4 linked regions of the Homo sapiens genome follow. The protein of the gene in region 4 purifies or fractionates together with the protein of the main gene of each other region. This does not show direct contact. Each region holds a gene or a part of one and is shown on either strand. Other genes may lie near its edges. The genes, in order: LMNB2, TBC1D10A, RAB28 and PDE6D.

What was found.
Region 1: the proteins of PDE6D (region 4) and LMNB2 purify together in Homo sapiens (affinity purification with mass spectrometry; 2 studies listed by BioGRID and IntAct, with this or other methods). This does not show direct contact.
Region 2: the proteins of PDE6D (region 4) and TBC1D10A purify together in Homo sapiens (affinity purification with mass spectrometry; 2 studies listed by BioGRID and IntAct, with this or other methods). This does not show direct contact.
Region 3: the proteins of PDE6D (region 4) and RAB28 purify together in Homo sapiens (affinity purification with mass spectrometry; 3 studies listed by BioGRID and IntAct, with this or other methods). This does not show direct contact.

What each region holds. Positions count from the first base shown.
Region 1 is NC_000019.10:2,432,936-2,439,959, forward strand, and holds part of LMNB2 (lamin-B2), read right to left. Parts: intron 5,597-7,024; coding exon 5,440-5,596; intron 5,354-5,439; coding exon 5,228-5,353; intron 2,237-5,227; coding exon 2,066-2,236; exon of another isoform or gene 1,979-2,065; coding exon 1,853-1,978; intron 1,581-1,852; coding exon 1,360-1,580; intron 1,171-1,359; coding exon 891-1,170; intron 1-890. UniProt on the Homo sapiens protein: Lamins are intermediate filament proteins that assemble into a filamentous meshwork, and which constitute the major components of the nuclear lamina, a fibrous layer on the nucleoplasmic side of the inner nuclear membrane.
Region 2 is NC_000022.11:30,323,918-30,331,180, reverse strand, and holds the start of TBC1D10A (TBC1 domain family member 10A), read left to right. Parts: upstream 1-4,239; 5' UTR 4,240-4,299; coding exon 4,300-4,508; intron 4,509-7,263.
Region 3 is NC_000004.12:13,481,319-13,488,795, reverse strand, and holds the start of RAB28 (ras-related protein Rab-28), read left to right. Parts: upstream 1-4,455; 5' UTR 4,456-4,645; coding exon 4,646-4,720; intron 4,721-7,477.
Region 4 is NC_000002.12:231,771,267-231,778,290, forward strand, and holds part of PDE6D (retinal rod rhodopsin-sensitive cGMP 3',5'-cyclic phosphodiesterase subunit delta), read right to left. Parts: intron 1-7,024. UniProt on the Homo sapiens protein: Promotes the release of prenylated target proteins from cellular membranes. Modulates the activity of prenylated or palmitoylated Ras family members by regulating their subcellular location.

The sequences.
Region 1 (7,024 bases), on a different chromosome or scaffold from region 4:
CCATCAGCTGGGTCACCCCGTTACCCCCATGCCCCGGTCTTTCCGGTCACCTTGTCCCCTGCCTCGCATTGGCCGGCGGCCCCGTCACCCTGACCCTGATCACCCCCATCAGCTGGGTCACCCCGTTACCCCCATGCCCCGGTCATTCCAGTCACCTTGTCCCCTGCCTCGCATTGGCCGGCGGCCCCGTCACCCTGATCCTGGTCACCCCCATCAGCTGGGTCACCCCGTTACCCCCATGCCCCGGTCTTTCCGGTCACCTTGTCCCCTGCCTCGTATTGGCCGGCGGCCCCGTCACCCTGACCCTGATCACCCCCATCAGCTGGGTCACCCCGTTACCCCCATGCCCCGGTCATTCCGGTCACCTTGTCCCCTGCCTCGTATTGGCCGGCGGCCCCGTCACCCTGACCCTGATCACCCCCATCAGCTGGGTCACCCCGTTACCCCCATGCCCCAGTCATTCCGGTCACCTTGTCCCCTGCCTCGCATTGGCCGACAGCCCCGTCACCCTGACCCTGGTCACCCCCATCAGCTGGGTCACCCCGTTACCCCCATGCCCCGGTCATTCCGGTCACCTTGTCCCCTGCCTCGCATTGGCCGACGGCCCCGTCACCCTGACCCTGGTCACCCCCATCAGCTGGGTCACCCCGTTACCCCCATGCCCCGGTCATTCCGGTCACCTTGTCCCCTGCCTCGTATTGGCCGGCGGCCCCGTCACCCTGACCCTGATCACCCCCATCAGCTGGGTCACCCCGTTACCCCCATGCCCCGGTCATTCCGGTCACCTTGTCCCCTGCCTCGCATTGGCCGGCAGCCCCGTCACCCTGACCCTGGTCACCCCCATCAGCTGGGTCACCCCGTTACCCCCATGCCCCGGTCTTTCCGGTCACCTTGTCCGAGTTGTTCTTGAGCTGCACAAACTTGCCCTCCAGGTCGATCTCCTCGATGCTGACGCTACCCGAGGCCGAGGCCTGCTGGGCCAGGTGGAAGCCACCGCTGCCACCCGTGCCCGTGCCCAGGACGCTTGGGCCGCTGCCCAAGGGCTCCTCCACCTCCAGCCGCTTCCGCTTACTGCGGCCCAGGCGCCCGGTGGCGGACAAGCTGCCGCTGCTGCTCGAGGTGGCTCGTGAGACGGTGACGCGCGAGGATGGGCTGGGGGACAGCTTCAGCCTGTGGGGAAGGCAAGGAAGGTGGGACTGGTAGTGGGAGCCCCAGACAGCCCAGGGCACGCAGAGTGGCGGCCACGGCCCGGCCCCACCTCCACCCCTGCCCAGCACTCCCCGCAGCCCCGTCCCGCCTCTCCTCCTGCCCTGCCCCTCCTCCTCACTCTGTGCTCCCAAGCCTCCTGGCCTGCCGCACCTCTCCTCCTCGCCCTCCAGGAGCTTCCGGTAGGCGTTGATCTCCATGTCCAGGGCCAGCTTCACGTCCAGCAGCTCCTGGTACTCGGCCAGCTGCTGCTGCATCACGTCCCGCATCTCCGTCATCTCCTGCTCCTTGGCGTCCAGCATCTTCCGGAACTTGTCCCGCTCCCCGGCCATGGCCTCCTCCAGCTCCCGAATGCGATCTTCAGCGGCACTGGCCTGCGGAGGGGGCGGGTGGCGAAGGTCAGGGCAGCCCATGGGTCACAAGGCCCAGGTGATCCTGGGACTGCGGGAGATGGGCCCTCACCACAGACTGGGGCAGAGACCAGGCCTGGGCATGGGGCGCACGGGAGGGGAGGGAAGGGGCATCGCTGGGCGCCCCGAGGGCTGCATCCGATGCCAAGAGGCCAGAGCCCCACGCCCCGCACATCCAGGGCAGGGCCCAGAAGTTGGGCCAGGGGGACGGCAGACGGTGGCGCTGTGCTCATCACCTGCTTCTGGAGGCCGGAGAGCTGGTAGCTGAGGGACTCCAGGCGCATGCGGGCCTCCTTCAGCTCCTCGCGAGCCGCACTGGCCGCCTTGTCGTTCTGGTCAGAGCTCAGCTTGGCGCTGTCCAGCTGTGGGGAGACGGGCGGGTGAGTGCGGGCGCGGGGCGGGGCGGGGTTCCCACCGGCCGCCCCCGCCCACCCGCCTGCCGGCCACACCTTGGCCTGGTAGGTCTGCTCCAGCTCCAGCTTGTAGAGCCGCACTTGCTCGTCGTGCTGGCTCCGCAGCTCCTCCAGCGCCTGTGCCATCTTGAAGTCGTACTCCTGCTGCCGGCTGCTGTCCACCTCCACCAGGCGCCGCTCGTGCCGCCGCCGCGTCTCCCGCACCTCCTGCGGACCAAGGCTTCGTGACCCTCTGGTCCCGCCTGGGCCCCAAGCACCAGGCCCAAGGGAGGGCTCAAAAATGTGCCAAGAGGAACCTCCAGGCAATTCCTGGTTCCTTGTGCACAAGTTACAAACCGATACACGTGCAGGTGAGAGGCGACCCAGGGGCCGTCCACGCGCTAGAACGTGACTCAGCCACGAAAAGGAGCGAGGCTCTGACACCGCCACAGCATGGATGCACCTTGAGGACGTCACACTCAATGAGAGACGCCAGACACAAAAGGCCACACGGTGCGTGATCCCATTTCCATGAAATGTCCTGAAATGTCCAGGACAGGCCCATCCACAGAGACAGGGAGGGGATGCGTGGGGGCCAGGGCTGGGGACTGCTGATGGGGAGGGGGTTCTTTTTGGGTGATGGAATGTTCTAGAATTAGAGGTGGTGGTTGCACAACCCTGTGGAGATCCTGCCAATGCTGAACTGTACACTTTAAAAAGGTGGACTTAAAATAGCCAGGTGTGGTGGCGGGCACCTGTGGTCCCAGCTACTCAGGAGGCTGAGACAAGAGAATCGCTTGACCTTGGGAGGTTGCAGTGAGCCAGGATCGCACCATTGCACTCCAACCTGGGTAACAAAGTGAGACTGCGTCTCAAAAAAAAAAAAAGTGACTCTCTCTTATAAAAGCCATTATTGAAGAAAGCGGGCCAGGCGTGGTGGCTCATGCCTGTAATCCCAGCACTTTGGGAGGCTGAGGCAGGCAGATCACGAGGTCAGGAGTTCGAGACCAGCCTAGCCAACATGGTGAAACCCCATCTCTATTAAAAATACAAAAATTAGGCCGGGCACAGTGGCTCAAGCCTGTAATCCCAGCACTTTGGGAGGCTAAGACAGGTGGATCATGAGGTCAGAAGTTCAAGACCAGCCTGACAAACATGGTGAAAACCCCGTCTGTACTAAAAATACAAAAATTAGTCGGGTTGGTGGCACCCGCCTATAATCCCAGCTACTCAGGAGGCTGAGGCAGGAGAATCGCTTGAACCCAGGAGGCGGAGGTTGCAGTGAGCTGAGATCATGCCACCGTACTCCAGCCTGGGTGACAGAGCAAGACTCCGTCTCAAAAGAAAAAAATTAGCTGGGTGTGGTGCTGTGCACCTATAATCCCAGCTACTCGGGAGGCTGGGCCCAGTGTGGGCAACAGAGCAAGACTCCATCTCAAAAACAAAACAAAACAAAACAAAACAAAACAAAAACAGTAGAAACGCTTCTGAAGGAAGCTGGCCACCTTTGCAGTCAGCAAGGCGGGTAGCCCAGGCAAGCAGAGCCCTGCGGGCCGCGCACCCACCTCCACGGCCGCCCTCCCGCCTCCACGGCCGCGCACCCGCCTGCACAGCCGCCCTCCCGCCTTCACGGCTGCGCACCCACCTCCACGGCCGCTCACCCACCTGCACTGCCGCCCTCCCACCCCCACAGCCGCGCACCCACCTCCACGGCCGCCCTCTCGCCTCCACGGCCACCCTCCCGCCACCACGGCCGCGCACCCACCTCCACGGCCGCCCTCCCGCCACCACAGCCGCGCACCCACCTCCACGGCCGCCCTTCCGCCCCCACGGCCGCCCTCTCCAGGACTCCGCACCCTGTGGGCTGCACAGGCCTGCATCATCAAGCTCCCTACCGCAGCTCCCTGTGAGGGCCCCTCCAGGGCCTCTTCCCGGCCCCTGCACCGCCTTCGTGGGTCTTTTCCCAGGTGCCCTGTGGGTTCCACCTGGGGCACGTTCCTGGGCCCCCGCACAGAAGCTCTCGTGAGTCTCTTCACGGGCTGTCTCACAGGTTTCCCCACAGGCCCCTTCACAACTGCCCTGGCGGCCTCCCCTCTGGCTCCTGTGGGGCCCCCCCCACTCCCTGGGCCTGGCCAGAGCGGGGCGCAGCTCCTGAGCGGCCTGGACATCCCTCCACCAGCAGCCAGCAGCTCTCCCTGGGCAGGGAGTGTGGGCCCGGCCGGCCCCGGCATTCCACCCTGCACTGTGACAGCACAATTGGTTCTAAAGGACACAGGCTGACGCCTTTCCTCCCCACTCCCCTCTCCGAGCCCCCGGAGGCAGAGGCCCCAGGTGAGGGGCTGCAGGTCAGGGAAGGAGGCTGGGTGGGGAGAGCGGGCCTCACCCTCGCTTTGGACAAGGAGGCCCTGTGGGAGGCTGGACGGTGGCACCCAGAAGATGCACCTGACGCCTGCCTCATGGTCTAGCAGTTAGGATCCCAGGCGGCCAGGGTTCAGCTCTCAGGGTGGGAACACCAAGCTTTTAGAAAGGCAAGAAATCAAAATAGACCTTCCTTGACACTGAAGAGATATGTTTTGGCTGGGCATGGTGACTCACGCCTGGAATCCCAGCAGTTTGGGAGGCCGAGGCGGATGAAGCACCTGAGGTCAGGAGTTCGAGACCAGCCTGGCCAACGTGGTGAAACCTCGTCTCTACTAAAAATACATAAATTACCTGGGCATGGTGGTGCACGCCTATAATCCAGCTACTCGGGAGGCTGAGGCAGGAGAATTGCTTGAACCTGGGAGGCGGAGGTTGCAGTGAGCCAAGATCGTGCCACCGCACTCCAGCATGGGTGACAGAGTGAAACTCCATCTCAAAAAAAGACGTGCCCACATCCCGATCCCCAGCAGCTGTGAATGGACCTTATTTGGAAATGGGGTCTCTGCAGATGCCATTAGGTCACTCTGGATGATCCAGGCAGGCCCCAAATCCAATGACAAGTGTCCTTGTAGGATACACAGAGTATGGACACAGGGGAGGCAGCCGCGGGAAGACAGAGGCAGACACTGGGGAGACGCAGCCGAAGCCAAGGGCACCCTAAGAGGCAGGAAGGAGCCTCCCTAGAGCCGTGGGAGGGACCCCGGCCACACGGTGCCCTCAGGCTTCCGCCCTCCACAGCCATGAGGGTGGACTTTGCGTTTCCGCTGTGCCAGGCTGGAGGCCAGGCCACTCACTCACCTCCTCGAACACACTCTTCCGGAAGTCCAGCTCCTCCTGCAGGCTCTGGCAGCGGTTCTCCAGGTCCACACGCATCAGCGTCTCCTTCTCCAGCTGCTTTTTGGCCACTGCATGACCGTCCTCGGCCTGGGAGACACAGGACAGCGAGCTGGTGTGACAATCTGTCTGTTGCATATACCCTGCTGGGGCGTCCCGTGGCTCCTGGCACCTACCTTGGCCAGCTGGGCCCGCAGCTCAGCCACGTCACTCTCCAGGCCGCGCTTGTCGCTGAGGGCAGCTGCCAGCTCCACCTCGCTCCGGTGGAACAGGGACTCCAGGTCCTTCACACGGCCCTGGGCCACCGTAAGCTCGCCCTCCCTCTTCTTGGCGCTGAAAGTCAAGAGGGCAAGTGAGTGGGGAGGGGCAAGGTCCATGGGGCCACAGGGAGCACCTCAGGGGGCGTCAGGCAAGCCCAAAGACAAGGTCACCGAGGCCTCCGAGCCCCAGACCTTCCCGTCCTGCAGACGACGCGGCCCCACGCGCCCAGGCAAAGGCACACGTGCCCTCATCATCTGCCCTGCACTGTCAGGAGTCCAGCAAGTGACAGGCACCAGCGCTTGGGACCACCCTGGAGGCATGGGCTTTCCCAGCCTCTCCTGCCTGTTCTGGACCCAGGACGACCATTTGGGGAGAAATTAATGCATCCTCTGTAAATGTTACAAAGACCCTGGCCTTTGAAGGGTCAGCCTTGTTTGTAAACTTAAGCTGTCTGAAGCAGGCTCACCTGGTTTTCCACTAAACCAAATTAGCTCCAACATTAGATATTTAAGATAGCAAATACTCAGGCTTTTTAAACACACAAATACTACCAGTGTGGATTGTAGGCACTTAAGCTTTTTTTTTTTTTTTTTTTTTTTTTTTTTTAAGAGACAGGGGTTCACTTGTTTGCACAGGCTGGTCTCGAACTCCTGGGCTCAAGGAATCCTCCTGTCTCAGCCTCCCAAAGTGCTGGGATTACAGGTGCGAGCCACCGCGTACGGCTGACTCTTAAATGTTTTTAAGCATAATTATAAGTCTTGGAGCTGAATTTTACCCCCTCCCGACAGGGAACTAACTATATCCTCCCAAGAAACAGTGAGGACACCCAGGGTTCCGCAGCGTCACAACTGCTGACATCTGGGGTGGTCTTGAGTGAGGGCACCCAGGGTTCTGCAGCGTCACAACTGCTGACATTTGGGGTGGTCGAGTGAGGACATCCAGGGTTCCGCAGCGTCACAACTGCTGACATTTGGGGTGGTCCTAGGCACTGCAGGGTGCTGAGCACTGTCCCTGGCCTCCACCCACTTCAGACCAGGAGCTTCTTGCTGCCCAGTTTTGACAACCACAAGTGTCCCCAGGAATCACCCAGTGTCCCCTGGGGACAGAATCACCCCAGGATGGGGACAACTGGGTGTATCTGGAATAACACAGCCAAGGCTGCTGGCTGGACATTCAAAGAACATCCACATCCAGGCGGCTCGAGCCCGTGGCCAGAGGTCAGAAGTGACAGGGACCTCTCCTGCCCAGCAGAATGCACTCCCGACTCTCCCTAGAGCCTTTTTTTTTTTTTGAGTTGGAGTTTCGCTCTTGTTGCCCAGGCTGGATTGCAATGGCGTGATCTCGGCTCACTGCAACCTCCGCCTCCCGGGTTCAAACAATTCTCCTGCCTCAGCCTCCTGTGTAGCTGGGATTACAGGCATGCGCCACCAGCGTCCGCTAATTTTTTATTTTTAGTAGAGATGGGGTTTCTCCATGTTGGCCAGGCTGGTCTCGAACTCC
Region 2 (7,263 bases), on a different chromosome or scaffold from region 4:
ACAGAGCAAGACTCCGTCTCAAAAAAAAAAAAAAAAAAAAAAAGGGCATCTGGACTTTTGCTCATGGCCAGTGCTCACAGGTTTCCTGAGCACATGCCAACTGCACATTCCAGGATCCAGGAGAGGGGCCTATGTGAGATCCTCAAGCCCAGCTGTTGGGAATGACCCCAGCAGGATGAGACTCTGGGATATCAACACATTCTATCTTCAAAAGAATGTCTCCAACAGCCAGTTCACCAGGATGTTCCACAGCATTGCCTAAGGCCTCTTAAATTCTTTATTCCAGTGAACCACGTGATTCTGCAGGGCTCCTTTCTGATCATTTATTCATTGGTTCACTGTTGCCCTTGCTTTCTCACTCCAATCTAACAACACAGCCTCCTTCTCCTTCAAGGGGAAAATCATCTGCTGCCATGCTTGTACACTATTCTCAGTCCTGCAGAAGGGGTCCCTCATTTTCAGCCCATACCACCTCCCCAACACCTACTCCAGCATTCTCCATACCTTACCTGGCTTTATTTTCTTATTCTCACTACCTGATAGATGTTCTGTGCTTGTTCATGTTGTCCCTCCTCCACTGGACTATAAACTCTATTGGGCCAGGACTTCATCTCTCTTATTCACTAGAGCAAGCTCGTCCAACCCATGGCCCAGGAGAGCTTTGAATGTGGCCCAACACAAATTTGTAAACTTTCTCTTTTTTTTTTTTAGACAGAGTCTTGCTCTTTCGCCCAGGCTGGAGTGCAGTGGCGCCATCTCGGCTCACTGCAAGCTCCACCTCCCGGGTTCACGCCATTCTCCTGCCTCAGCCTCCCGAGTAGCTGGGACTACAGGCTCCTGCCACCACGCCCGGCTAATTTTTTGTATTTTTAGTAGAGACGGGGTTTCACCGTGTTAGCCAGGATGGTCTCGATCTCCTGACCTCATGATCCGCCCTCCTCGGCCTCCCAAAGTGCTGGGATTATAGGCATGAGCCGCGCCCGGCCCCAAATTTGTAAACTTCCTTAAAACATTATGAGATTTTTTTTTGCAATGTTTTTTAACTCATCAGCTATATCGTTAGTGTATTTTATGTATGGCCTAAGACAATTCTTCTTCCGGTGTGGCCCAGGGAAGCCGAAAGGTTGGACACCCCTGCACTAATGTCTGGCTCATTATAGGTGTATTAAATAAAGAACTCTGGAGTTTGGCCAGGCATGGAGGCTCACGCCTGTAATCCCAACAATTTGGGAGGCCAAGGCGGGAAGATCACTTGAGCCCAGGAGTTCAAGACCATCCTAGGCCACATAGTAAGACCTAATCTCTACAAAAAAATACAAAAGTTAGCAATTTCACACAAGGACACCCAGTTGTTGAGGGGCACAGCCACGAAGTGAAGTCTCCCAAGCCACGTGCCATAGGTTAAATTGGGCAAACTCCCCCGCTGCAGCCACAGGCTGTGATGGGGAACACTCAAGACAATAATGAATTTGCAATTCCTTTTGCAAGCTTCAAATGCCACCACTCCTGGCCATTATTTATTTATTTATTTATTTATTTATTTTGAGATGGAGTCTTGTCTGTCACCCAGGCTGGAGTGGTGTGATCTCTGCTCACTGCAACCTCTGCCTCCCAGGTTCCAGCGATTCTCCTGCCTCAGCCTCCTGAGTAGCTGTGATTACAGGCGCCTGCCACCACGCCCAGCTAATTTTTGAATTTTTAATAGAGACGGGGTTTCACCACGTTGGCCAGGCTGGTCTCGAACTCCTGATCTCAAGTGATCCACCCACCTCAGCCTCTCAAAGTGCTGGGATTACAGGCATGAGCCACCGCGCCCAGCTCCTGGCCATTATTTACTGGGCTTCTCCATGTGCCAGGTGTTTAGCGCATACTGTCACACTAAAGTCTCAGCACAATTCTTCCAAGGAAGAATTTTTTCAGAATTTCCAATTTATAGATGAGGAAATGGGCTCAGAGAGAAGTAATTTGCTCAAGGTCACAGAGCATAAATTCAAATCCTGGTGGTTTGATTAAAGAAAATTAGAAGCTGAAGCATCACTGGAGTAACATCTATACAGTCTCCTAAAGATGAACACTCAGGGTCTCTAATCTACCCCCTCCCCAAATATCCCTGGGGTGAACGTCTCTATATTTGTGCCCTCACAGAGCTGAGTAAGAACATGTTTGGGATATAACCCTAGGGATAGAATCATGAAGTCAAAGGGTCGTGGATACTTTTCTTTGCTGTACTTGAGGCTTCACATCTGCCCCAGGTATGTCTGGCTCCTCCCCCTCCCTTTCCTGGGATAGGCCCATACCACCATGAAAGACCCATACCGCCCCTCCTGGGAGCTGGGACCAGGAGCCCACCACTGTCTGGAGTCACTGAAGAGAAGGAACATCCTCCTAGACTGAGGGTTTAAGACCAAAATAGCCTGTGCCCACTCCCATGTCTGTTCTTGCCTTGTTTATGGAAAGCCAGAAGCTCATGGAATGTGAGGATTGTACAATGACGCCATCAAGAATGTCCAGGCCACATGGCATCAAGGTGAAATCACTCAAGGCTCAAGACCCCCTCTTGGGGCTTGCCTTGGGGCCCTGAATAGTCTGTCCCAGGCCCTGCAGCCAGGTCTGAGTCTTCCAGTCCCTTCCCCTCTCTAGGCCTGTCTCTCCCACAGGTCTGCAGGGAGTGTCAGATGACAATATACTGTGACTTGTAAACCATAAAGTACTAGACATAAGCGAGGAGCTATCATTATATTATAGATCCAAGAGTTGACAATCTCTAGGGTCAGAAATCAGCTGCTTGGGGCTAAGCCCATATAGATAAAATCGGCCCATCCCTCCAAATATAGGCAGTTGGTAAGAGCTAAGTTCGAATCCTGGCTATATTCACAGCTAATTCTGGGACCTTAGGCAACTGACTTTACCTCAGTCTCCTTAACTGTAAAATGGGACTAATAATGGTGTATACCTCATTGCTAAGAGATTACAAGACATGTTGCAACCAATTTGGAAAACAGTTTGCCAGTTCCTCGAAAGGTTAAACAGTTGCCATATGACCCAGCAATTCCACTCTTCCTTATCTATCCAAGAGAAATGTAAACATAAGGCCCCCACACAAAAGCTTGTACCTGAATGGTCAGAGCAGCATTATTCATAATGGCTAAAAACTAGAAACACGCGAATGACCATCACTGATGAATGGAAAAACAAAATCTGGTATAGTCCCAGCTCCCAGGAGGGGCAGTATAGGTCTTTCATGGCGGTGTGGGCCTATCCCAGGAAAGGGAGGGGTGGAGTCAGACATACCTGGGGCAGATGTGAATCCAGAAGCACTGATACATGCTACAATGTGGATGAAACTTGAAAATGTTCAAGAGAAAGAATCCAGACATAAAAGGCCATATATTGTATAATTCCATTTATATGAAATATCCAGAAAAGGGACATCTATAGAAACAGGAAGCAGATTAGTGGTTGCCAGGGACTGGGGGAGCCAGGATGCGGAGTGACTGCTAATTGGTAGGAGTTTCTTTTTGGGGTGATGAAAATGTTCTAAAATTAGAATGTTGTGATGGCTGCACAACTCTGTAAATATGCTAAAAATCATTGTACACTTTAAACGTGAATTTATGGTATGTTTATGTTCCATAAAACTGCTGGGGAAAAGACTACAGGAGAAAGTAGGTAGAGCTTCGGGCGTGCGTGGCTCAGTAAACGCTGGTGATTATTAATAATTAGGTCTCACGAGGTAATTTAAAGCCCCAGAAGCAGTGAGTGCAATGGGACTGCCAGACTTCTGGCTCAGGCTGGGCCTTTAAGCCGCTCTGCGTCCCTGAACTCACTTGGGCCTCCTCAGAGTTCCTCATAAATGAATGGGGCAAACAATCCCTACCACGTCCTTGGGGTCTCGCAGGGAGCGGGGCTCAGGAGGCAGATGAGGAATCCATGGAGGAAGCCCTGGGCCTCCGGCTCGCGCTCTGCAGTAGGTGACAGGCCCCGCTTGGAGCCAACCCGGAAAGGCCCGAGCTCGTCCAGGTGAGTTCTTGTGATTGGCAGCCCGGAGGAGGGCGGGGAGGGCTGCGGTGACGGCTGCCCCGCCCCCTCACTTCGGGCTTGTTGGCGCCCGCCGGGGGAGGGTGGGCGGGGCCCGGGGTCCGCGGCGCCCATTGGGCGTGGGGGGAGAGCTCCGGGGTGGGCCTGGAGCCCCGCCCCCCGGCCTTGCGGCGGCCAATAGGCGCCGCGCGTGGGCGGGGCGTCGGCGGCAGCAGGGCGGCTGAGGTGGCCGCTGGAGCTCAGGCGGCGGGCGCGGCTGGGATGGCGAAGAGCAACGGAGAGAATGGGCCGCGCGCGCCCGCGGCCGGGGAAAGCCTGTCGGGAACCCGGGAGAGCCTGGCCCAGGGCCCCGACGCCGCAACCACCGACGAACTCAGCTCTCTCGGGTCTGACTCGGAGGCCAACGGCTTCGCCGAGCGCCGCATCGACAAGTTCGGCTTCATCGTGGGCTCGCAGGGCGCCGAGGGCGCGTGAGTAGCGCCGGGGGTCGGGACTGAGCGCGCCACCCACGCGAGGGGCCTCGACACGGACGGAGGCGCCCTCGGGACTTGCCGACACGTCCCCCTCCCAGGCAGGGACCACTAATCCCCGTTCCCTCCCCTGCCCCACCCCCACCACCCCTGCCTTCCTAGACCCGCCCCCTTCGCAGTCCTACTTCCGACCCAGGGGGCGGACGGGCCCACACCTCCACCCGCCACCTCCACCCTCCGGACAGACTGACCCGCTCCCAGGAAGGACCGACTGTGCCCTCCTTCCAGCCGTGGAACAGAATGACAGACTGCCCCAAACCCACCCCTGCCGCCAAGACCTTAGGGATGATTGTTTCTGCCACCCCGACAGGCTCCCAGATGGCTGGCGCCCCCCTCCATAGACACTCATTCTCCATCTTTCCCCCTCCCACAAACCCACAGACGCCCTTGTCTCCCCGCCTCACTGCCCCCACACCAGGAGACCTCAGACCGACTTCAGGACTGACTGCCCCGCCCCCACCCCTTCCCAGGACAGACTGACCCTTTCCTCGAGGCATACAGACCTCTGGATGGACAGACATTGGTCACCTCCCTCCCCTCAGCTCCATCCTGGGACAGACAGTCCCTTCTCCTCATGGAAGGGTCGGAGAAGGGCCCCCTATCCGCTCATACACAGCTTCCTCCACTGGCACTGGCAACAGGTGGGCAGGTACTCCCCCTTCCCAGCACGTACAGGGCGACAGGGAGCCCCACCACTAGGACAGACCATCAGCTCCAGCAGCCACAGGAGCCAGTAGATGGGCTCTGTGTATGTCCTGTGTATGTATGCGCCTCCTCCCAAGGGCAGATCTTGGGCGTGGGACGGGGGCAGGCAGGGAGACAGCAGGGTCCCTGCTCATATTAGCACCCCCCGATGTCCTATCCCGAGAGCACCCAGACACCCAGCTAGCAGACAGAGAAATGTGGGGCAGTGGAACAGCACCTTGCCTCCAAGCTGGGCCCCATGTTGCCCCACAGAATCCCCCGAGCCCAGGCCTCAGAGATCATGTGTACAGGCTGGCGGTCCCCTTAGGAAAGATGGACTCCATACCCCACTCCCATCCCAGCTGTCCTGTCACGTGAGACCAGTGTTGTGCACAGAACTGACAAGACTCCCTCCTGATGTGTGCTTTCCATCCCAATCACCAGTAGGAGCTCCTGGGGCCCTGCCATGACCCTACTCCAGAGAATATCCTTTCTCCCTTTCTCTGACCAATTGAGATTGTCCAAGGTCACCCCAGACTCTCTCATGACTTATGGAAGCGCTTTAACTGTCTAAGAACCCCTGTCACTTCCGGGATTTTCCCCAGCCCTAAAGCCTCTTATTCACCAGGCCTCCTTCTTCCTTGGAGAAATCCAGGCCCCTCCCCTAAGGGGAGTTCCCTCTCACCCACTGGATCTGTCTCCTCCAGTATCTCCCTACTGGCTCACAGCAGGCTAGGTTTAGTCCAGGACTCAGAGAGAGCACCCCTCATTCTGAACCCTCACCCTGACTGATGCTTTGTCACAGTTCCCCAGGGATTCACTTGTGAGAACTTAGTGGGGACCTGGAGTGTTTTGAATTGAGGAGCAGTCACCTGGGATTAGGACCCAGGGAGGTGTGTGGTCTTGAGATCTAGGAAAGGAGTTCCCAGTTGCATTTATGGGACCTTGGAAGGAAGAGCTCAGATTTGTGGGAGAATGCTAGGGCATGAGAGTTCCTACTACATGCTTATCAGGCAATCAACCAGATCTTGGGGTGCAGAGCAATGTGATATATTAGGAAAAGGCCAAACTTAGGAATTACACTTGCTAGCTTTGTGACCTTGGGCAAGATCCTGAATCTCTGAGCCTGTTTACTCACTGTAAAGGGCGACAGTAACACCCACTTCCCAACATTACTCTGGGGGTTAAATGAGTATATGATACGTGAAGGTGCCTGGCACAGCGCTTGTCACAAGTAGCGGCCCAGAAAATGTTAGTTTTCTTTCTTTCCTTCTAAGGGTCTGAGAAATGAAGAGAAAAATGAGGGCATATCTCTGGTATTTGTGGGCAGAGTGAGGCCCCAGTGGAAGCACCTCCCTTTGGCTGTAGTCCCCAACCAGGCAGCCAGACATCTGTCTTTCTTACCCCACAACCACAAACCCGGGATGTGGCTCTGCAGACACCCTCTACATGGCTGCTGTCTGTAGGGCTGGGGCTGAGGTGGGATCCCAGCTCCAGTCCTCTCTCCTTCCCTCACTTTCTGGAGCCTGTCAGTCAACCTAAAATCTCTGGTATCTGAAAGCTTCGATGTTCCCTACTTAATTTATATTGTGGTTTCAAAAAAGCCAAGAGTAAGTCCCTGCCCAAGGCCATAGAGGGGAAGTTATGGAAAGCTTCAGGGTGACCGCCCTGAACCCAGTCTCGTGGTTGAAGGCTAGGAGTCCATGTTCTATGCTAGAGAAGTGAAACGTTAGCCCTCATGGGTACTGTGGAGATGGTGGGGACTCTGACTCCAGATTAAAGGTCCATTTCAGCTACCCTGGGCCAAAGGTTGTCTTAAGACATTTTGGATGTGGAAGTTGCCAGGCCTGGGGGTAAGAAAGCAGGTCACAGGCTACCTTACTGAGGTGACTATTAGCTACATGGCATGAGTAGATTAAAAAAACCATAGACTGCACTGTAAGGGATCTTTTTTTTTTGAGACGGAGTCTCGCTCTGTCACCCAGGCTGGAGTGCAGTGGCGCAGTCTCAA
Region 3 (7,477 bases), on a different chromosome or scaffold from region 4:
TTGTATGACGTTTACAAGCTGGTAAAACTAATGTACAGGACTAGAGATCATAATAGTAATCATTGAGGAGGTAATAACCGAGAGGTGGCATGAGGGAGTCTGCTGGGATTCTGAATTGTTCTATGTCTTGATTCAGATGGTGGTTAAACATACAACATGCACATGTATATCTATGTAGATGTGCATACAACCCATGGGAGAACAGAATTTTAGGAAGAAAGCCTTATTTTTTAAAATTTTGTCCTCAAGGAGTTTAACAAACCAATTAATTCTAGGGATTAGTTCTGTATTTTTCTTAGTTTTTCAGCAGAACTATACAAATACAGAAATACCAAGTGTACAACCTGGAAGCATGGCCAGTATTTAGCCTTACTCAGACATTAGTCCTAGGATCTACATCTTCAAAATTGTGAAATAGTGCAAAAAGATGAAAACTGATGGATGACATTGGATTTGTTGAGAAGATGTCAGAGACTGGTAGTTTCTGAAATTAGTTCCTTCCTTGATTCGTTTACCATTTTCCCACCTTCATTATTGATGAATAATAATGTTAAGATATTTTTACTCTATTTCATCTGTCACCTGTTTTACTATCTTTTTAATGTACCAGAATATGAAACTGTCTTGATGATTTACTAAATATCTGTGTTCATCCTTATATTAGTTATCTATGGCTATTGTAAAAAATTACCATAAACTTGGTAACTTAAAAGAACATAAATGTATTCTCTCACAGATCTTGAGGTCATAAGTCCTAAATCAGTGTCACTGCACTGAAATCAAAGTGTCAGCAGGGCTGGGCTACCTCCAGAAGCCTGAGGATAATTTGTTTTTTGCCTCTTCCAGCTGCTAGTGGCTGCCAGCACTCGTTGGCTAGTGGCTGCATCATTCCAGTCTCTGTCTCTGTGGTTATATTGCCTTCTCTCTTATAAGGATACATGTGATTGCATTGAGGGCCCACCAAATAATCCTGGATAATCTTCCCATCTCAAAATCCTTAACTTAATCACACCTGAAAGATGCTTTTCCAAATAAGGTAACATTTACAGTTTCCAAGGATTAGGACCTGATATCTTCATGTGGCTATTATTCAGCCTACATATCCCTCTACCAGAATGTAAATTCCATGGGAACAGAGCTTTTGTATGTTTTTTTTCACTTATGTGTTTTCAGTGTTTCGAGGAGTTGTGAACAAGAATGCCTGGTACACAGTAGGCAGTCACTAAATATTTGTAAATTTAATGAAGTTTTGTTTGTTTGTTTATTTTTGGAGACAGGGTCTCATTGTGTCATCCATGCTGGAGTGCAGCGGCATGATCACTGCTCACTGTAGCCTTGACCTCCCAGGCTCAAGTGATCTTCCTATCTCAGCCTTCCAAGTAGCTGGGACCACAGGCGCCTACCACAATGCTTGGCTGGGTAATTTTTGTTTTTTAAAGTTCTTTTAGAGACAGGATCTCCCTATGTTGCCCAGGCTGGTCATGAACTCCTGGGCTCACGTAACCCTCCTGCCTCGGCCTCCCAAAGTGCTGGGATCACAGGTATAAGCCACCATGTCTAGCAGTCACTAAGTATTAATGAATCACTTTGATCATCTTCCTGTGGAATGGGGAGTTTTCGTTTTATTGAGAAAGACATACCTATTATCATTAGCTGTAATTTATAGTGATAAGCTTTGGCTCATCATCAGAGATAATATTTTAATAACCAGGCCTATCCATCTACAGGCCAGGTTGCTTCATAAAGGAAGAAACTCCTTGAATGTGGACGTATTCAAATAAGGTTTGAATAATTATCTGTTAGAGATGCTATAAAAGATATTTTATACAATGTCTAGAATTCTTATAAACCTTTTGTCTATTAGTTTTAAAATGACTGAAGACCATTCCTCTAATTTTTGACCCTGTTAAGAGCATTGTACATGAGAATCCACAAAGATATATTCTTTTTGGTGGATCAGCTCTATGTTTCTTTAGTATGTCAGAGTATCATACTGGAAGCTCTCAATGCTAAAATGGTCCTCCTCACATAGAAAGTTTTTTTTTCTTTTTCTTTATAAAAATGGCTCTAAGTCTTTAAATTCTAACTTTTAACCCAGAAACTTGCCATATGTGTAAAATATGATCCCTAAAATAGTGCAACTTTTTGTTTTATATAACACTATCCTATTGATGTACCCATATCCAAATGAATGTTGTCTCTCAATCAAAGCAGTCATCTCAGAAATTGATGAGTGGAAAATGAGAAGCTTTCTTCTAGATTTCCCTTCATATAAAACCACATATGAAAATCAGGCCTATGAGTTCAGCTAAATCTAGTTTTTGGCCGAAGTAGTTATGTCAGTTGGAATTTTTTTGTTTGTAGGTAACACAATTCATCGCCAAAGTACCATATTATTATTTCCCATAACAAGAAACCGAGAAGATAGAGTGAACAAAGTGTAGTAGTTCCAAAAATCCTGTTCTTACCTAATAATGACAGCAAAGGAAGGGAGGAGGAGGACTCCCCTGTAACTCTCCTTTTTTCTTTTCCTTTTTTTTAAATGGTGGGGGGAGGGTTCTTTTACAAATGTCTTCCAAAGGACACTGTCTTCTGTCTCATTAGTCCGGTGGATCACATAGCTATCTAAGGAAGACTGGAAAAGAAATTTTCTTGCATTTTAACTGCCCTCATGGACAAGAAGTGGTTAAGTCTGTCCTCACTGGAAGTAGATTCTTCTCACTAACAAGTACATATCCTCTTTCTTCTAATTCTTATGAATAAATCTGGTGAATAGAAAATTGGTGGTGGCAATGGTGGTGCGGGATTGGGGAAAGAATTGGGTACTAATACTTAACTGGGTACCTATAATTGTGGGCCAGCCCTCTCTGCAGATGAAGAGACTGAGGCTCTACATAAGAAACTTGTATAAGGTAAATTGGCTAGAAAGTAGTGACACTTCCAACACGGACCATCATCTAATTATGATGATGATGAGGGTGATAGTTACACTGGTTAATATTGAGTGCTTACTACACACCAGGCATTGTGCTATCTACTTTATGCCGATTATTTCATTTAATTTTCAAACCTACACAAAGGCAGTAGTCTGTTCTACAGGTGAACTAACTGAGGCTCGAGGACACATATCTAGTAAACATGAGATTAAACTCCAGTGATGCCTCTAGGTCTGGGCATTTCTTTACACTGTTCTGCTTTCCTGTTCTAATGCCCATATGGTCTCCAAGACTACTGCCTCTGGGCTAAGCATTTTGTTAACTTAAGATACTTCATCTGCAAAATGGGGATAATTATACTTCATAATTCCTAATAGTAGTAAAGGTAACAATAAATTTTAAGTGATTAACAATGAAACAACCATAGCAGGACAGCATTATTATTTTTGAATTTACCTCACTAAATTGTAAATTTCATTTATGCCGTTTACCTAACGCTCCTGGACTGAGATTATCCAGGGCAGCAGTTCTTAAATTTTTTGGACTCAGGGCCTCTCTATAATGTTAAAGAATTACTGTGACCTCCAAAGAGCTTATGTTTATGTGGGTTACACCTATCACTACTGCATTGAAATGAAAACTGAGAAATGTTTAAAAACAACAAACGCAAGCTCCCTTAGCTGCCAGTGATGACGTCGTACACAAAGCGTATCCTCCAGGAAACGGTATACTAGTGAGAGAAGGAACGTGAGAAAGACAGACAAGGTGTCCGTATTATTATGAAAATTGTTCTGAGGTCATCGGGATTTCCAGAGGTCCCTAGACCACACTTTATGAGAACTGCTGCCTTAGGGTAAAGATGGGGTGCCAGGAGGTTGGCGATCAGTAGCGTCTGATGAACGAACCATGGGAGCCTGGGGTTGTTCAGATGAGGAAACCAAGAGTTAGGCCGAAATAAGCAGCGCCGGAGCTCCACTGTATTCACGGCCGCTACTGAGGCTTCCCAGCAGCCTCGGCCCTTAGCAGCTGTCCCCTCATCCGCCCCGAGGTACCCTCTTCCCTGGTCCGGTTTTTCAGGGGCCCTCTCTGGCGCTCTCCGCCAGGCTACGGGCGTCCCGGGTGCCCGGAGACAGGCCCCGCCCCGCCGCCGGTCCTCGAACTCCTGGCTGCCAGGCAACCCTGGCGCGTAGCCCGGGCGTCACTGCTCCACCCCGTCAGGCTGAACCATTCCCTTCAGAGACTTTCTCAAGAGGGAAGGAGAAAAGGGAATTTGATGGAACGCCTGAAAGCTGCTCTGCTCCCGTTTTCTCTCCTTAATTTGAACGAACACTTCTTTTCTTCTTCTAGCCAACTGTCTCCTGAAGGGAAACGCAGCGCCTCGCCTCTCCCGCCGGAATGTCCCCCACACCAGTCCAGGGCCGCGAGTGGTTCGGCTCGTCAGGCGGGGCCGCCGGTCGGCGCGGGTTGGCTCTGAGGCGGGGGCGCGCGCCCGACGTGCGCGTAGGGGGCGGGGCCGCGCGCAGAGGGCGGGGAGGTGGGCAAGATGGCGCTTGCCGAGTGATTCTCCTCGAATACCTCCTGCCGGCGCGGAGACACCGGGGCGGGGGTCCTGCCGCAACTACCTCCCTTCCTCCTCTCCCCCGCCCCCGGAGCCTTCATCCTTCCCTTCCCCCCCCACCTCGAGGGGCGGGCCTGGTTCCCGGGACACCATGTCGGACTCTGAGGAGGAGAGCCAGGACCGGCAACTGAAAATCGTCGTGCTGGGGGACGGCGCCTCCGGGAAGGTCAGTCCTCGAGCAGGCCCGCCGTCCCAGGCCTGCAGGAACCCCGGCGGTCCCCGGCCTCCTCCCCGCCGCCCGGCGTCGCCTCGTTACCCCGAGCCCTCGGGCTTCTAGGCCCGGGCCCTTCTGGTTGTGTGGCCTGAGGCCGGACACGAAGTGGGCGCTTGGTGAAGGCCGACGAGAGCTGTCCAGCTCCCCCTTAAAAAAGAGTCACTTCCTAACTCCCCGCCTGGATTGCGAACTCCTGCAAGACTCGGGCCAGCCTTTCAGCTTCCCGCCTCTCAGGACTGGCAGGGATTTGCCAAGGCATCTTAGCTCCTCTTACTTGTAGTCTGGGTCACACTTACTCCTCCCCTCCCACCCCCTTTACCGTTTCTGATGCTTCTACTGCATCGTGAGCTCCCAGGAGCGTAGCTCTGGAATCAGTATTCCCCGGGTGAGAATTGGGGCTCTGCCACTTAGTCGTCGGGTCATTGGAGGGCAAATTGCTAATCAGTTTAAGCTTCATCTGTAAGATGGGTATTGAAAAGGGCCGCCGCAAAGGGAGAAATGTGAAAATACATATTAAATGTGAAAATACACATAAAACCTTTAGAGCACAGTGTCCACTCAGTACACTCTAGTTGCTATTTTAATATCATACCTGTTCATCACCTCTGTTTCCAGCTCAGCACTCGATACAAGCAGTCAGTCAACAAGTGTTTATGGAGCTCCTGTTACGGGTAGGATGCTGAGGGTAGAGCTGCTTGCGTGACAAAAGGGATCCCCTGTTCGAATGAATGAATGCGGGCGTGAGAATATCAGGCAGCGTCAGTCTTATTATCTCCTAGGCAGGGGCTCCTACCCCAAGGCTGTGGAACTCCTGAAATGGAGTAAATACTGCCCGGTACGTGCTCTGGGGAGAGGGTCCATAAGATCTCAGAGGGGTCTATGATCCCTCCACCAGCAAATAGTGAAGAGCCTCTACCCGGATGCCTTCTTTCCCATGCTTCTGTCAAAGGCGCCAACACTTTCTGGGAATATTGCTAAAGTTTATCACCCCTGTACTCCCCTTCCTTATCCCAACCATAGTCTAAAGAAACCCAGGCTTTTATTTCCTGTTTAAGGCTTCACATTTCCCTGTTGCTGGTTGCATTTCGGACCCTGGTTTCTCTGGTGACGACTTCTCTTTGCATCCTCCCTGACAGTTGGCACTGCCCAGATACCTGCTTCTGCCTTTGGTTCTGACATTTGAGTTTCGAGGTCACCTGGGAAAGATGTAAAATTTTATATGCAAAATTTGAAGTATTTTTTTGTTTCTTTCTTGTCTTCTTGGATCCTTTGTTACAGATTTTTAAAGCTGAGGAAAACAATATGCTCTGATTACCTTTAAACGTTGGGGGAAGAAAGGAACTTGGGGTAACTTTTCTTTATAAAGTATATTAATTTTTGTATACTTAGTAAACTTTTCGAATGAATGAATTGCTATAAATAAATCATTGTTTCTAACACCTTTATTCAATAAAAAGTTTGTTAGATTTTTATAGTTTTCTCATCATTTAGATTTTCTTTTGAAGGCCGTCTAAGGTTTTGGCTCTTAAATTTTACTGTATTCAATTCATAACTGATCTTATTTCCCATTTAAAATGATAATGACAACTCATAACAATACATTTGTAAAAAGACACAAAAATTGCTGGTTATCCTATATGCTATCATAATTCTTTAAACTGTTGTTCATTTTTCTAACAGTATTTATTGTACATATATTACTTAGTGAAATTTGTTCATAATTTTGCGTCTGAGTTTTTTATTTAGCCTATCATACATGTTTCCTCTTTGTTGCTAATTTAGTGTGAATAATTATGGTTTTTTATCTCTGTTTAAAATTTTTTCTTGTATAGGACAGGATAATTTTTTCACTTCCATGTTTTTGAATTAGTATTATCATTCTGCTTCAAAGGATAACAGTTAATATTTTTTATGGTGCTCTGACTTAATCTTCATTATCTTGACTAAATAACTTATTTTAAAACTGTAACAGCTTTTTCTAACAGGAACTTCCAGACACAAACATCTGACACCTAACCTTCTTTCATTATTCTTAAATCAAGAATTTTTTTCTCCATACCCTATTCAGTTCTCAAATACTTGGCAGCCACCAACATTCCCATTCTTTTTCCTTTATTGTTCTTTTCTTTGTGAACTCAGCCTCTCTTTCATTCTTACTTGTATCCTGATTTAACTCTTGGCTCTTTTTTCCTGGCATTTGTTTTTCCTGCTCAATCTAACTCTGAGCATTTTTCAACACACTGACAGATGCAATAGAGTATTGAGATGATGACTAACAGTTTCTCCAAGAGAAATTTAGCTCCTCCTTCCAGTATCACGTGTTTCTATTTCTTTCCTTTTCTGATTCATATTTTTTCTTTTATTACATAGTCTCTTAAGAGCTTTTTGAGGCAAAATATTCTTTTTTTTTCTGTCTTTTCAGTGTTTGTAAATGTAGCATGGTTAAAAAATGTTAGTAGAAATTTACCAAGTCAAAAATGTTAGTAGAAATTTTCCAAATCAAAAAATATAAAGATTCAGATAAAAATATTTCTGATATGGGAGCTAGTTGTTCACTTAATACCTGTAATTAAGAAGGGTATTTATACAGTGACTTGAGAAATTATTGAATGTGAAAGATAGCATGCAGTCTAGATAAGTGAAGAGAAAGTGACCCCCACTGATTCAGTTGATTCTCTGTTCAATTTTTATCTCAAGACATCGGGAGAT
Region 4 (7,024 bases):
CCAAGCTGAGAAAAATTTAAAACTCAAAATTAATAATACAACAACAAAAGAATAAATTCTCCAGAGAGGCATCATGGTATACTGTAGAAAACATGGACTTTTAAAAAGACAAAACAAGGCTTAAATTAAGGTTCTGCCTTCGTCTAAGTGACTGCCTCGTCGATCCTCAATTCCTTAGTCTATAAAGTGAGGATAACAATGAATAGGGTTGTTGTGATAATGCAGTAATATATCAAAGTTCTTTAAAAACCGAAAAGCAGTATAGAATTATGAGATATTACTAGACCATGCTGTTTCTTCTTGTGGCTATATTTACAGTGCTAATTTATATTACAGCTATTTATGTTTCATTCTCTAAATGTTATCTAAATTCAGAGGCAATAATTGCTCTCCTTGACTCTGAATCAGTTGTATCCACAATGCACTAAACCAAACACTTCAATACTGAGTGTCTCAGAGTTGTGTCAGAAACAAAAAGGAAACAATTGGGTCACAAAAAAACTTTTTGCCGATTTTAGGTGTAGAACATATCTCAATATAAACATTTGCCAAAAAAAGTACTTGTTAAGTAAGAAAGGCTGTCACCAAATCAAAGAATTGTAGTGCTGGAAAAGGATTTGAGTATTTCTGTAGATCATCTACTGTAATACACATTTGATACATACAAAATTTCCCTCTGCAACACTCTTGACAGACAGGCATCTATCTGCTGCTTAAAACACTTTCTGGAAAATGTCTTTTTTCAGGTAATTCTACTAATTGTTAGAAACTGGCCTAAACTCTGTCACCTGTAATTTCTACCCCGCAAATCTTGTACTTCCTCTGAGAGCTACACAGCAACATTTAATTCTTCCTCTTTAGAACAGTTGTTTTTTTTTTTTAACTTTAGAAGAGAATACTCATATCTCTTGTCCAACTCTTTTCATCTTTAGGTTAAACTCCCTTCAGTTCCCCCATTATTGAATGTATGCCATGTTTCAAGTGGCCCACCTTTATACCAGCTCCACTTTCCCCTGCCTCCCTTTGCAGTAGACTAAACAAGCTTTCATGTGTCCTACGGTGAGACCATCGCCTTCTTTGCCATAAACAGTAAGCTTTAGTCCAATCCATTGAAATCTTTGTGGATATTGGACTGTAAGAAATATATTTGCTTTTCTTCCCAGCTCCAAAATTATAAGCAGGTCAAAAGCAAAAAAGAATGCTGCTCTCAGAACTTTGACAATTTGAGTTTTACGCATTCAAGCAATTATTAGAATAGTCAGGCTGCTGGAGAAGATGGCCTTAAAATTCCTTCCTATGATGCTAGGCTTTAGCTCAGGAATAGAGAGGGATAGGTCTATAAGTCAAATCCTCTCATAACACGAGGATTTGTGGATGCAGAATGCTGACAAGTGAGGCCTGGGAGGCAAAACTGAGGTCAACCCTAGTAAGAACCTAGAGCTTCCAAGCCTCAGAACCATTGCTAGTCCTTTATCAAATGTAGTGGTGATACAACTGGAATTCTCCATGACAGTTTTACCGTGTTCTGTCCCATTTCTCCAGAAGTTACTGTAATGTTTCATTATAAACCATATACACAACCCTGGCAAGAAACTTAGAAAGTCAGTAGAAGACTATAAATATCTAATTATACACTAAATTCCTTCCAAAAAACAAAAGCAGGAATGCCTGTTTAAGAATCCTAAGTAAGGCCGGGCGTGGTGGCTCACGTCTGTAATCCTAGCACTTTGGGAAGCCAAGGTGGGCAAATCACTTGAGCCCAGAAGTTCAAGACCAGCCTGGGCAACATAGTGAAACCGTTTCTCTACAAAGAAAAAATACGAAAATTAGCTGGGTATAGTGGTGCACACCTGTGCACCCAGGCACTCAGGAGGGTGAGGCAGAGGATCATCTGAGCCTGGGAGGTCAAGGCTGCAGTAAGCTATGATAGCACCAGCCTGGATGACAATGAGACCCTGTCGCAGAAAAGAAAAAAAGAATCCTAAGATAATCAATAGGACATTATATTCATTTAATCCATTCAGGATAACAATACAAACTCTCAAGAGTCCATGCATGAGGAAACAAGCTACCAATCACAATCTACATGAAACTGGGCTTTATGAGTGGTATGTCTGGTTGCTTTCCAAGACTTTGGGTTGTCAGACAAAACCTATATTATGGGAAATAATAAACCTCAAATTCATTTTTAACATTTGGCCAAGGCAACTGTACCAGGGAATACTGACTTTCAAGAGAAGTTCTACAGTCGACTTTTCTTAATATGTCTACTATTCTTATTCTTTATTCTAAGTGAGTAAATAGAAGATGTAAAGCCAACTGTTTTTTGATTGGAAGCAAAGTCAAGGATTAAGGTACTATGAGAAAGAAGATACAGGGATTCCAGGACCAAACTATGGGAGAAGAAATGTAAGAAAACAAGTGAAAGATGCTTTCAGAAACCTTCTGAGCCCAAACTCTTTTTGCTAACCTGCCATAAATTAGAATGAGATTCATTTTCTAGACAAGATAAACATGAGGTATATATCAATGCTTATTGAATCATTTATTCAGAGGCAAAATGGAAATACGATAGTTTTTCAGTAAGAAAATATAACTAGAATGAAGGCATTAGTTATATCTCAGAGAAATAAGTAGCTTTACAATCATATTAACACTATTGTCATTATTATTATTATTATTATTGAGATGGAGTCTCACTCTGTTACCCAGGCTGGAGTGCACTGGCGTGATCTCGGCTCACTGCAACCTCCACCTCCTGGGTTCAAGCAATTCTCCTGCCTCAGCCTCCCGAGTAGCTGGGATTACAGGTGCACACCACTACGCCTGACTAATTTTGTATTTTTAGTAGAGACGGGATTTCACCATGTTGGCCAGGCTGGTCTTGAATGCCCAAACTCAGGTGATCCACCCACCTCGGCCTCCCAAAGAGCTGGGATTACAGGCATGAACCACTATACCTGGCCTGTCATTATTATTAGTAATTATTAATAAAATGAATGGCAGCAGATATTACTATATGCCAGGCCCTGAACCAAACATCTTTTATGCAGTTTCATTTAATTCTCAAAACAACCCTCTGATAATATGAGATACAGATGCTGAGGCTCAGAGTCTGAGTGTTCTGTTGAGAGTCACAATAGCAGAGGCAGTAAGTCTAAACCTTGGAAGTGAGCCCATACTCTCAACCACTGTGCTATATACTCTACTGCAGTAATGTGTAAACATTTGATAGATACCAATTACTTTCTACAGACACTACACACACACACATAAACCAAATGAGAGTGCCCCTTTCCCTCAATGTTGTGAACACTGAATATTATCTTTTTTTTTTTTTGAGACTGAGTCTCTCTCTGTCACCCAGGCTGGAGTGCAGTGGTGCAATCTCGGCTCATTGCAACCTTGGCCTCCCAGGTTCAAGTGATTCTTCTGCCTCAGGCACCCTAATAATAGCTGGGATTACAGCTGTCCACACCATGCCCAGCTAATTTTTGTATTTTTAGTAGAGACGGGGTTTCACCATGTTGGCCAGGCTGGCCTCGAATCCCTGACCTCAAGTAATCCGCCCACCTTGGCCTCCCAAAGTGCTGGCATTACAGGCATGAGCCACTGTGCCTGGCATCTTTTTTTTTTTTAATAAATTTTTATTTTTATTTTTTTTGAGACAGAGTCTCACTCTGTAGCCCAGGCTGGAGTGCAGTGGTGTGATCTCAGCTCACTGCAACCTCTGCCTCCTGGGTTCAAGCAATTGTCCTGCCTCTGCCTCTTGAGCAGCTGGGATTACAGGCGTGTGCCACCAAGTTTGGCTAATTTTTTGTATTTTTAATAGAGAGGGAGTTTTGCTATGTTGGGCAGGCTGGTCTCAAACTCTTGGCCTCAAGTGATCTGCCCACCTTGGTCTCCCAAAGTGTTGGGATTACAGGCGTGAACCACTGTGCCTGGCCTAATTTTTAATTTTATTTTCGTACAGTGCCACTTTCAGGATATACATATATATTATCAATCTTTTAAATCTGTGTCAATTAATTGGGAAGAGATAGTCCATTATTATTATTATTGACAGGGTCTCACTCTGTTACCCTGGTTGGAATGCAGTGGGGCACAGTCTTGGCTCACTGCGACCTCCACCTCCCAGGCTCAGGTGATCCCCTCACCTCAGCCTCCCAGTAGCTGGGACCACAAGCATGCACCACCACACCTGGCTAATTTTTGTGTGTGTTTTTTTTTTTTTTTTGTAGAGGCGGGGTCTTGCCATGTTGCCTAGGCTGGTCTCAAACTTCTAGGCTCAAGCAATCCACCCACCTTGGCCTCCCAAAGTGCTGGGATTACAGGCATGAGCCCCTGCACCCGGAAGATAGTCTATTATTTTAACAAGGTTGAGCATGTCCTCATTTATTCATTGGTCATCTGCTTTTTCTTCTAGGAACTGCTTGTTCATATCCTTTGTCCACTTTGAGTTAAATGCTTATCCTATTGATTTGTAGGCAGCCATTTATATTCTGGATATTATAATATCTGACGTATAAATGAATTAAATAAATAAATGGAGACAATAAGCCAATATTAAAAAAAAGCTACATTACTACTCTGTATCTTATACCAAAGAAAATTCAGATGGATTAAAGATAATGAAATCATAAAAGCATAATTCATTCTTATGGAAGTCTGTCAGTTTCTTGTTAATTTAATAAAGTTATATTTTTATGTTGATGAAAAAGCTATTCAAATAGGCAAAACAGTAGATACAGACTATACTAGAAAGCTAGTATAAGAGTACTGTGACAAATGCTAGGTGCAGTGGCTCACGCCTGTAATCCCAGCACTTTGGGAGGCCTGAGGTCAGGAGTTCGAGACCAGCCTGGCCAACATGGCGAAACCCCCTCTCTACTAAAAATACAAAAATTAGCCGGGCGTGGTGGCAGGTGCCTGTAATCCCAGCTACTTGGGAGGCTGAGGCAGGAGAATCGCTTGAACTCCGGAGGTAGAGGTTGCAGTGAGTTGAGATCACATCACTGCACTCCAGCCGGGGTGACAAGAGCAAGACTCCGTCTCAAAAAAAAAAAAAAAAAAAAAAGAGTACTGTGACAAATCTGTCAGTGAAAGCAACTGAAAGTAACTATCTTTGGAAATCATAAACATGGTAAATCTATTATTAAGTGAACAAAGTAAGTTACAAAGTGATATTTACAATTCCATTTTTATAAAAAACACATTAAACATTAGCTACATTAGAAGGCTATATTAAATAATATTTACAAAGGTCACTCTAGGTGGCTGGCGTTTGTAATAGGAAAATTAAATAGAATTTTAAAAAATGCATTGCTTTTGAAGATATTCCTTCTAAACAGACATAAAGCTGGTTAAGCTTCTGGAAAGAAGGGACTGTAAGTTATTCATTTTTGTATCCTTCAAGTGTAGAGTGCCCTATACATAATAGTCACCCAACAGACCTTTGTTGAAGGAACGAAATGGGAAACGTGGGATTTACAAACATCAATCTCTATGTCAGCTGCTTAAAATAATCAAATCCAAAATATTTGCAGGAGAATCATATTGTTCCCCAAGTAACATTTCATTCATAACATTAATTTACAATTAGGAAATGTTATGCTTTTAACAAACAAGAAAGAAATGCAAGGTTCTTAATGTGTATGAGAGCCTTGCATTTCTTGAGAGGTAGTATAGCGCCACAGTCCAGTATAGCTCTTAACCACTATGCTATATTACCTTGTATGGATCTAGGGATCCAGGAAAATACAAATCGAAACAATGTGTTGTCCAAACTGGCAAAAATAAAAAAGATTGACCTAGTCAACGTGGAAAACTGAGTACTATCAACACTGTTGGCAGGAGATCATAATGGTGCTCTTTTTGTAGTGATAAACTCTTCTCACAAAAACAGATACTCTGAAAGAGGTAGGGTGAGATGGGGTGAAGGTGATACAAGAATAAAATCTTATAAGATTTTGTTTTTGAAACAACTGATGGCAAATACAAAGCTTCTACTGAATTCACTCAGACCATGCCTAATTTATGCATACAGTATTCACTTTTATGCAGTATCTTTAAATTTTTTTTTTTTAGAGTTGGGGGTCTCGCTATGTTGGCCAGGTTGGTCTTGAACTCCTGGCCTTGAGCAATCCTCCCACCTAGGCCTCCCAAAGTGCTGGGATTACAGGTGTGAGTCACCATGCCCAGCCAAGTCCTCATGTTTCTATCTACTATGGGCATATGGGCAAGCTTCCATGTGAACAAAAGGGGCACATATTTGTAGGGACCTTAAACACACATATTATGTTAGTCACAGACCATTCTATTGTAAACTATACTAAATCATATTATAAAGCTATAATAATTCAATCAAATGTGTATAGGTACAAGAAGAGACAAATAGATCAATGAAACAGAAATAATCCAAAAAAAAACCTATGTCTTATGAAAATTTAGTATATGACAAGGATGGCATTTCAAAACAGTGAGGAAAAGATGGACTAACTACTTAGTAAATAGTACTGGAACTATTGGCTATCCAAACAGCAGAAGTACTTAGATGTCTACCACATACCAAATGTGTAAATACGTTCCAGGTGGATTAAAGAGCTAAACATTGAAAAGAGAAGAAAAGATAGGATATTTAGTTAATCTTGGGATAAGAAAGATCTTTTTAAACAAGATACAAAATGCAAAAGCCAGATGGCAAATATTAATAAATTTGAGGCCAGGCACGGTGGCTCATGCCTGTAATCCCAGCACTTTGGGAGGCAGAGGCAGGCAGATCATGAGGTCAGGTGTTTGAGAACAGCTTGGCCAACATGGTGAAACCCCATCTCTATTAAAAATACAAAAATTAGCTGGGCATGGTGGCATGCACCTGTAATCCCAGCTACTCAGGAGGCTGAGGCAGGAGAATTGCTTGAACCTGGGAGGCGGAGGTTGCAGTGAGCCAAGATTGCGCCACTGCATTCCAACTTGGGCAACAGACCAAGACTCCGTCTCAAACAAATGAAATAAAATAAATTTG